Regions from separate parts of the Homo sapiens genome. Here regions 2 and 3 are each reported to be linked to region 1. The links are microRNA targets in miRTarBase. Many come from high-throughput screens and were not tested one by one. Region 1 holds a microRNA gene; each other region holds the end of a gene's coding sequence.

The links. Region 1 holds the annotated microRNA hsa-miR-5003-5p (UCACAACAACCUUGCAGGGUAGA, at 1,594-1,616, opposite strand). A microRNA usually pairs through its seed, bases 2 to 8, with sites in the 3' UTR of a target mRNA and lowers its output. Matches are read on the target gene's strand: a 7mer-m8 pairs with bases 2 to 8, a 7mer-A1 pairs with bases 2 to 7 and ends in A, and an 8mer does both.
Region 2: the mRNA of HSPA2 is a reported target of hsa-miR-5003-5p. The part of its 3' UTR that is shown has no 7-base or 8-base seed match.
Region 3: miRTarBase lists NPTX1 as a target of hsa-miR-5003-5p. Seed matches in the 3' UTR shown: 7mer-m8 at 1,278-1,284 and 7mer-m8 at 674-680.

Annotation. Positions count from the first base shown.
Region 1 is chr5:172,660,550-172,663,802 of GRCh38, reverse strand. It overlaps MIR5003 (microRNA 5003), which reads right to left and starts at 1,638; the gene lies at 1,540-1,638. The region is part of intron 1 of NEURL1B (neuralized E3 ubiquitin protein ligase 1B); the gene reads right to left.
Region 2 is chr14:64,542,551-64,545,803 of GRCh38, reverse strand. HSPA2 (heat shock protein family A (Hsp70) member 2) reads right to left here. Exons shown (of 1, transcript NM_021979.4): 1 at 2,567-3,253. The coding sequence ends at 3,035. Among named protein-coding and RNA genes, the nearest start is that of HSPA2, 3.4 kb to the right of the region's middle.
Region 3 is chr17:80,468,108-80,471,360 of GRCh38, forward strand. NPTX1 (neuronal pentraxin 1) reads right to left here. Exons shown (of 5, transcript NM_002522.4): 5 at 1-2,927. The coding sequence ends at 2,706. Among named protein-coding and RNA genes, the nearest start is that of NPTX1, 6.9 kb to the right of the region's middle. RefSeq lists an enhancer at 1-542.

The DNA of each region.
Region 1 (3,253 bases):
AGGTCCCCAAACCACGCCAGCGACTAAATCCCCTGGGCCATCCTCCCATGAAAGACCAAGGCCCTGCTGGCCTTGGGTGGGTGCTGGCCCCAGCCAGTGAGCCGTGCCCCCCACTTCTGACCAAGAATTGAGGCCAGGGACTCTAAGAAGAAGTGGGGGAGGTGCGGTTTCTGTGAGGTGGGGACTCAGTGGAGACCTTTGCAGTTGCCCTTCTCGTTCATAGAAGGGAGAAGGGACAGCCCTGGCCCAAATCCCATGGCTTTTTTTTTTTTTTTTTTTTTTGAGATGGAGTCTTCCTCTGTCCCCCAGGCTGGAGTGCAGTGGTGTGATCTTGGCTCACTGCAACATCCGCCTCCCGGGTTCGAGCGATTCTCCTGCCTCAGCCTCCTGAGTAGCTGGGACTACAGGCGCCCGCCACCACACCTGGCTAATTTTTGTATTTTTAGTAGAGACAGGGTTTCACCATATTGGCCAGGCTGGTTTCGAACTCCTGACCTTGTGATCCACCTGCCTCAGCCTCCCAAAGTGCTGGGATTGCAGGCGTGAGCCACTGCACCTGGTCAATCCCATGGCTTTTTAAGTTTTTTCTTGAGGCAGAGTCTTGCTCTGTCTCCCAGGCTGAGTACAGTGGCATGATCACAGCTCACTGCAGCCTCAAACTCCCGGGCTCAAGTGATTCTCCCACCTCAGCCTCCCAAGTAGCTAGGACGACAGGTGTGTGCCACCACACCCGGCTATTATTATTATTTGTAGAGTCAGGGTTGCTGGGGCTGGTCTCGAACTCCTGGGCTCAAGCAATCCACCCACCTCAGCTTCCCAAAGTACTGGGATTACAGGCATGAGCCACCATGCCCAGCCTAACCCCCATGGTTAATCACAGGCTGCTCCAGCCCCACCAAGACTAGAGGGCAGTGTCTTTCCAGCAGTTAGTCAAGGAAACAGTGCCCAGACTCGAAATGCATGGCAGAGATTTGGAGGGTGGGTGATGAGTGTCTGTGGGTGGTTAGGGAGGAGGGAACTCTGGCTGTCAGGGTCACCACTGCCCAGCCTTGGCAAGTCTTTCTGGAAGGCCGGTCAACATAAGAACTGCTTCCTGGGTGGCTCTGAGATTTACTTCATGGGCTCTGGATGAAAGCCTGTGCTTTGCTACTGATTTGTCTGAGAGCCTTGAGCAAGTCACTGTACCTCCCAGAACTGCAGTTTTGTCATGTCTAAATGGCACGTGACCTTAGACCCCTGTCTCAGGCTGCTGGCAGGGGCAATGAGAGCATAGAAAAATCCCGGCAGAAGTCCTGGCACATAGTAGATGTTAAATAAACAGCTATTCCCTTCCCTTCCCCATGGGAAATAACAAGTCCAACCACTGGGTAAGCCCCTCACCTCCATCTCTTTCATGCTTTTTATTTCTACATCACAGTTTGAGAGGTGGTTAAAAAGAGCACAGGCTTGGAGTCAGACCTGGGTTTAAATTCTGGTTTTGCTTATTTATTAGCTGTGTGATCTTGCGGTCCGTGTGATCTTGAGGTCCGTACTTAACTTCTCTGTTCCCCCTGCCCCAGCCCCCAACAACCTAGAAAAGTAGGAAAAATCATCTCTACCCTGCAAGGTTGTTGTGAGGATGACACAAAGCAAACTCATCAGACACACAGTGTGTGGCATGTAGTAGGTGCTCATTAAACACTTGATCTCCTCCTTTAACCACCTTATTTAGTTCCTTTGACTAGGAAAGGTTTATTCCTGGGTCAGAGATACCTACCTGTGGCAGCTGGGAAAATACGTTCTGAAACATTTTTCTCCCGTGTAGGGCTCATAACCTTGGCCAGCAGAGGCCTCTTGAAAACCCTGGGGTTGCTTCCCCTTGGTGTCCAAGGACAGAAGCCTATTTTTAAACTATGCCAGCAGGCGTCCTAAATGCGCCTTGTGCCATCCCCTGAATGGTCCCCACTCATCTCTCCAGCCTAGCCCTTCCTTTGATCTAAAAAGAGCCCAAGGAAATGGCAGTTACCGTCAGGAGGATGGCAGGAAGCAACAGCTCCCGATACTCTGGCCCCGAGACGCCGGCTTCCAGCCTGCTGGAGTTCCGCAGATGGCATGCTGGCTGAGGTTTTCAGCAGATTCCTCTCCACCAGGAAAGGGAATTGCCAAATGGGAGAATCGTCTATTCTGCCTCTTCCTTTGAACATGAGGATTACACTGGAGTTTCACTGGGCCTCTGCTATGTAGTGGGTACATGTCTTGGTTTATTGGGTTTAATCTTCAGGAAAACTCTGCAGAGTGGGTTTTACCACCTTGATTTCCCAGATGAGGAAACTGAGGGTCTGAGAGGACCAGGCTCATGCCCTTTCTTCCACCCCACCCCTTCTTCAAGGCAGCTGCCATAACTTTTGGGTTGGCGGGGCGTGGGGAATGGTTCATGGACCTTGTTAGAAGCAATAAAATCTATAGAGGCTTCCCCGCCAGAAACATACCCAGACTCCATGCACAATCTGATATTCAACTTCAGGGTTTCCCCCCAGAAACATACCCAGACTCCATGCACAATCTGATATTCAACTTCAGGGGCTTCCTGGACCTGGACCTTTATAACATGCGTCCTTGGACTGTAGACCTTGAGTGAGAAATCTCTGGTTCAAATGACATTTGCCCCAGTCCAAAATGTAAACCAGCACTGTTGGCAGTAGGAAGCAACATGGTGCTCATGTGTGTTGGGGTGAGGGGGGCAGGCTGTGCTCTAGAGAGAGGAAAAGGCAAGGCTGGTATTTAGCAAGGCTTCCCGCCATATCCAGAGGGGCCAAGATATCAGTCACCTTTGCCAACAAAGTTCCATTTTCCATTGGTGGGTTTAAAAGTGGGCTGGAAAAAAACATAACCAGGCTGGGCACGGTGGCTCACGCCTGTAATCTCGGCACTTTGTAAGGCCGAGGTGGACAGATCACCTGAGGTCAGGAGTTCGAGACCAACATGGTGAAACCCTGCCTTTGCTAAAAATACAAACATTAGTCGGGTGTAGTGGCGGGCATCTGTAATCCCAGCTACTTGGAGGCTGAGGCAGGAGAATCACTTGAACCCAGGAGGCGGAGGTTGCAGTGTGCTGAGATCGCACCACTGCACTCCAGCCTGGGCGACAGAGGGAGACTACATCTCAAAAAAAATAAAGAGAAAAGAAAAAACATAACCAACCCTTCCTCACCTCTGCCAAATGGGGCAGTGACAGGCACTCAGGAGACAGACACCAGCTTACTGGACTTTGTTC
Region 2 (3,253 bases), not on the chromosome of region 1:
TTAAATTAACAGTTGTAAATTGTACTAAGATCTCCTAATGTACAAGTTTTAATGCATTTTCATTATACATATCAAATCAATACTATAAAAAATTTAAAGTGAGTTTGTTTTGAAATTTCACACATCTCAAATACTGTAAACAACTAGTTATGTCTTCGTTTGACAGGTGTCTATATTTGTTCCCTCAAAACAGGGACAACTATGTTAATCAAACATTCAGATAAGAATTTCAGGTAAGTGGGCTGGCGCGTGGCTCACGCCTGTAATCCCAGCACTTGGGGAGGCCAAGGCGGGCGGATCACCTGAGGTCGGGAGTTCCAGACCAGCCTGACAAACATGGAGAAACCCCATCTCTACTAAAAATACAAAATTAGCCAGGTGTGGTGGTGCATGCCTGTAATCCCAGCTACTCGGTAGGCTGAGGCAGGAGAATCGCTTGAACCCAGGAGGCGGAGGTTGAAGTGAGCCGAGATCAAGCCATTGCACTCCAGCCTGGGCAACAAGAGTGAAATTCCGTCTCAAAAAAAAAAAAAAAAAAAGAATTTCAGATAAGTGCCTGTCGGAGAATCCTTAAACTGTAATTTAGCCCCATCCTAACATCAAGTACTTTTTCCACTGTTATTTGACTATGGCTGATCTAACATCTGCTAAGGAGTTCCCAGGAGTTATCAGGTTACAAGTTTCAACTGACCCCTGGAAAGTGAATGGCTACTTTGGTGGCTTTATCTTGGTAATATGCAAATCTTGGTAAATTTGAAAAGAGAGAATTAAATAAGAAACACTCTCAAGAATGCTCAAGAATGTAAAACTCAAGAATTTGAGTTTTACAAATTACTTTTCAAAATAGAAAATGAAGTATCTGCCCAGATTGATGTTAGTATTATAGCAAGCTACCGGAGGTCAGGCCGTAGGATCAAAAACTACCAATGGTCATTTTCTGATACTTTAGAAACTAATCTCTTAAGTGAGGTCTAAAATGAGTCATACCAAACTGCATTTACAGAAGGACTCCATTATATTTTGAAGTTAGAGCAAGGAATGAACACTTTCAACAAATAAAGGACTAATAAAAGGGTAACAGAATGGGTATTATCTTGGTAAAACTCACAGTAAACGTCACTCTAAAGCTACAATTAACCTGATTTTGTAGTACCATAGTAGTTTGTCACATATTTATGCCTGTAGTCCATGAAACACCCTTAAATGCTCATTGCTGAAAAATTTCCACCAATGTGACACCAGCACTGATAAATTGGAGTTATCTTTAGCTTTTCAGAGTATAAAAAGCAGTTTCCTTTAAAAAAAAAAAAAGGTTTTTATGTTGAAGCAATTTCACTGTTGGCTATTTATCTTCCTCCCCCCTACCCAAATGAGGCTTGCTAAAAAGGAAAAAAAAAAAAACACCTTATGTGTACTTAAGAGTCAACTCTTGTATGAAAGGGTCATTACCAAAGGCCAGTATTCTTAGGCTAACTTCTTAGCTAGTTTTAAAATTATTACTCATTCCATTATTCATAAAATTAATCTCTCTGAATGACACAGATGGGTCCACTACTAAATTGAAGATAAAGCTTTCATAACTATTGTCTTATGAGCAGCATGAAGCAAACCTGCATCATGTGGAAAGATATCAAAACGTCTATGTGCAGTAAAAACATTAGGTTAACTATGCATTTTCCTATTGGTTTTACTGAATTTCTCTCAAGTTCTCCTTAAAGAGAGTAAGAAAAGAGTAGTCATGTCATTTCACTAAAAAATAAAAATGAATTCCTTTCTCTGAAGGATGTGAATTTTAAAGATTAAGTCCAGGATAGTGGATCACCAAAGGGTTGCAATATTCTTATCTATAACAATCTCAAATTGGATATGGAGGAAAATGGACAAGTTGTATATTAACAAAATACAAGACTATCTAGTACAGTTTGCCTTTTAAAAAAGAAATCTATCGTAGTGATTTAAGGCAAGTATTGCAAAAACGTTATGATCCCCAAACCAGAAAAAAATAATAATAATTATGTTTCCCTACCCAAGTAATTCTAACTGCGGGAAACATGTTATTAGAATTTGCCATAAGCTCAGAAGTTGAGCTGTTTTACTAGAAAATTAAACAAGTTTGACTAAATTTATACTCACTATTAAGTCACTTGAAAGCTTGCCTGCTGTCTCTTGTTTCAGGCTCCTGTATGTCACAAAATTAATTTGTTTCCATATTTCCTTTGGCAATTATAAGACAACTTCTGCCCAGCTTTTGTTAAAGGCTCATTTTACATTTAACCCCAGAATATAGCTCATATTTTCCTGGAATATTCAGGTGAATTTTCATTTGGACACTTAAGTTGTAGGAGTGTGAGTACACTAGGAAGACCCCAAGTCAGGTTTCTGTATTTAAGGGTGGGTGAAGTTTACCCAGATTCTTCTCCCCTTAAGTTGTTGGAATTCAAGGCAGCACCCTCATCTGGGAATTAAACAAGATTGGTTAGATAAATTTCACATCATACTAACATCTTAAAAGACGAATATGGGTAAAATATAAAGGAAGGAAAATTGAAAACTCCAAGACAGTAACTTTGAGATCAATTTCAGCTTTACTTTACATTTGCATTTATGCATTTGTTTGCAAAAAGTATACCTGTCCTTAACATTACTGCAATGTTCAGTTTAGTTTTAAAGTAGTACATAAAAATAAACAATTTAAGCTCCTATATATTTTACTGTTTCCAAGCTTCTACAGAACAGGTGTGCAAACTTAAGGTTTCTCATCTCAAACAAATCTCCATGCACGAACTAATCAAAAATGCTCAAGTCAGCAAACACGCAAAATGCATTAAAGAGAAACCTCGAATAATGTTTTTAAAAAACAAACTTTGGAACTTTTATAATTAAACTAAGTTGTTGCACCTCTCCTTTCATTTGCATATACCAAAGACTTCCAACAATAGATCTCGTACTTGGCACAAGGACATTTCAAAGAAACAAACAAAAAAAAAGAGAGAGAGAGAAAGGCAAAGAGGTTTACGCTGACTTGAGTGCAAGCTTAGTCCACTTCTTCGATGGTGGGTCCCCCGGAGGCTCCTGAACCGCCGCCGCCGCTGCCGCCGCCAGGACCACCTTGGTAAAGTTTGCTGATGATGGGGTTGCAAACTCTTTCGAGCTCTTTCTGCTTGTGTTCATACTCATCTTTCTCTGCCATCTGGTTTCGGTCGAGCCAGTTGATCACCTCCTGACACTTGTCGAGGATCTTGTTTTTGTCCTG
Region 3 (3,253 bases), not on the chromosome of region 1:
AATGGGAACTACGTGGATTAGATTTGCGGCTGTGTCATCGACCTTTCTCGGGGCCAGCAAAGTGCCAAGTGTCAACACAGTGAGGGAGTCGAGGGGCTTGGCTCAGACCCTAGCAAGGGGCAGGAGGGAGCTAAAGGTCAGCTTCGGCCCTGGCACCATGGGTGGGTCAGAGGAGGGGTGAGGAAGGTGAGCGGGCCAGGAGGCTGCAGGGGTGGAGGCGTAAGCACTGGGGTGTGCTCTGCCCCTCGCTAGTCAGGGCAGAGGATGGCTCATGGTCCTGAACGGACAGCTCCCACCTGGCCCACGGGGGCAGAAGGTGGTCTGCGGTCCAGTAGATCGGCAGGGGCGGGGCTGGCCGGAGGTGCTGGCAGGGGAGCACCCCACACAGCCCGCACCGGGCGTTGCCTACACAAGGGCTCCGAGATGGCTGGAGTGAGGGTGGGGCTAGATCTGGTCTAGAGAGGCGACTCCAAGCTCTCTTGCTGGCTCCCAGCTGTGGGAATCCTTTAGGCTTGTTCTCAACCTACACGTTAAAAATGCTTCTTGGTGTGTTTGGGGAGGGGGAGAGGGAAACTGAGCTCTCTCTTGACCTCCTCCAACACCCTTGACTTGCTTACCCAGCCATTTTCAGTAGCTACACGGGTGGTCACAGAACACTGGGCGGCACTCGGCACACAACACAGAACCGGGGCAGTCCATGCAGGTGCGGGAACACATGTCGGACCCAGGGAGCAAGGAACACGCCACCCCGAGGAACATGCAAACGGAGAAGATCCCTGCAGATCCAAGGATGCCACAACCCGACGGGCGCTGAGGAAGCACGATTATCTAAGAAAAAGCCACTGTTGAACAACAACGCGCAGCACGGCGCCTGATCTGCACCCCCCTCTGCGGGAGTGATGCATTGCAGAACGGCGGCCGGGTACCGTGCAGACACCCACGAGAACACTGACACAGAGACACTGACAGACACACACAGATGCACTAGGTTCTTGACACAACGTGGACCTGTGTTTAAGGGGACAGGTGGCCCTAGAAGGAACAGAAGACAGAAACACCTGCTCCTCCTGCAGAAATGTCTGCAGCTGCAGCTGAGCCAGGCAGTGCAGTAGAATTTCTAGAAAGACTTGTCAGCGGTTTGCTGATGAGACTCCTGGAGACAGAGTCGGGGTGCCCTCAGGGCGTGCGACCACCAGATGGTGCAAAGCAGGAAGCTCCTCCTACCCTGGGCAGGGCCTCCCGAGCCTGCTCTCTTTCTCACTTAGCGCACACACACACACAACACACACACACACACACAAATGCACATACACTTCTCTCCCCTCCTTGGAAGGACTAGAAGGAAATGTCCATGTTGCTTTTCACGGGGAACAAAAAAAGGCAAAAAGGTTCTGGACACTGCTCAGGTGTCAGTGTCGCCGGCCAGTGGCAGCTTGTGGGCTGCTGTAGGCCGTGAGCCCCATGAGATGGAGGAGTGGGTTTCAGGCCCCTGCCCTGGCCAGGCCTGGCTCCACACGTGAGGTCTCTGGAGTACCCCTGGAGGGGTCTGAACCAGCTCACCTGGCGCCTGGTGTGCTGGGAGGGATATGGCTGTCAAAGTCCCCCAAAAAGGACCTTCCCACCGATGGGCTGGGTTGAAGTCCCAGTGGCCCCATGTGGCCAGGTCTTCATCGAAACACGGCTTCTTTCCTTAAAAGGTCCCCTCTGGTCTGCACTGCCGGAGGCCAAAGGAGAGGGGTGCTGGGGCCCGGCTTCCCGGGCTGTGGGTGGCACGCTCCTCTCTCAGGGCCCTCTGGGCTGAAGCAGTGCAGCACAGCTCCAGAGGTGAGAAGGGAGGGGCAGACCCCAGCCTTGCAGGATCTGAGGAGGTGGGAAGGTCGAGGGCAGGGCCGTCCTGGGGCAGAGCTAGCTGAGCTGGGCACACAGGCCGACCTCCCAGGCCCCATGCTGCTCTCAGATGCAAACAGCAGGGATGGATGCTGTCTGGCCCTGGGGTAAGGGCCAGTGTCCTCAGCCATCCCCTCTCCTCCACGGGAGAGCACAGGGTACCATCCCAGGACGGCCTGCCTTCACCCTTCAGAGACAGTTCACTTCTATTACAAAATAAAAATTCTCTGTAGAGAGCCCCCGCCCCCGGCCTTTGACAAACCACTAAAAGACATTTATTACATCAATATAAAGATATGTCGCTCTGAGAAAGGTTTGCAAACAAAGACAAATGCGTGTACTGAGGTTGCACCAACCCCAAAGCACGCACGCAGCTAACAAAGTTGGCAAATATGAATTTTCATCATGAGATTTTTCCAAAGCCAGAAGAAAGAAGGAAATGAGGTACGTCCTCAAAGAAAAGGCCTCCCCCAGCCACGCACGCACACACGTAGACACACACATGTAGACACGCACACACAGATCCTCTCACCAACTTCTGCCTTGTTCAAGACGTTGCAGCACCCACTTCAGCTGTGAATGGGGCATGCCTGAGAGAGTCCGGGCTCCTACAGAGAAGTGGGGCTTCCTCAGGGACAGATGGGAGCAGGGGCTGCTTCGTGTGCATGAGGACAAAACCAGGCTGTGTGCGTGTGCGTGTGCAGGGGCGACGGCCTCGGTTCATTCCTGGGGAAAAGGGAGAGAAGAGACGCACAAAACAGATCATCGCCGCACAAGCAGGGGGCGAGGGCGGGCGGGCTCAGCCTGGCCTGCCGTGCTCAGTTGATCTGGCGACAGGCCTCGAAGGTCCACTTGGTGGCCCCTCCGTAGATCTCGATGTGGGATTCAGCCCAGGCGATGACATTGCCGGACAGAGCCTTGGTGCTGCAGGTGGCCAGGTTGTACACCTCCCCGGGGGTCAGCTTGCGGTCCCAGATGTTGAAGTGGGCCAGCTCACCCACAAATGCCTGGGTGGCATCAAACCCACCACCCAGAGTGTCCTTCAGAGAAAAACAGAGGATGAGAGTGGAGGGGTCGCCAGGTGGTCTGGGGGCCCATCCCTAGGCCGGGGATCTGAGTGCCTCTGTGCCTGCCCGATCACGGACTCTCACGGACACTCCTAGGTGCCGTTTCGTCTCCCTGTCCCTGACTCTCCAGCCCTACATCCATCCCTCCTCTGGGGGAGCCCAAGAAAAGGGATGGCACCGACCACCTCTGCCCTGGAGCTTCTCCTGGGGGGACCTGGACTCTGCCCCTCCTGCAGCTGGTCCCTCAGCCATGGACAACCACAGCAGCTGGGCCTGGGGCCCCTGCCCAGACATCACTC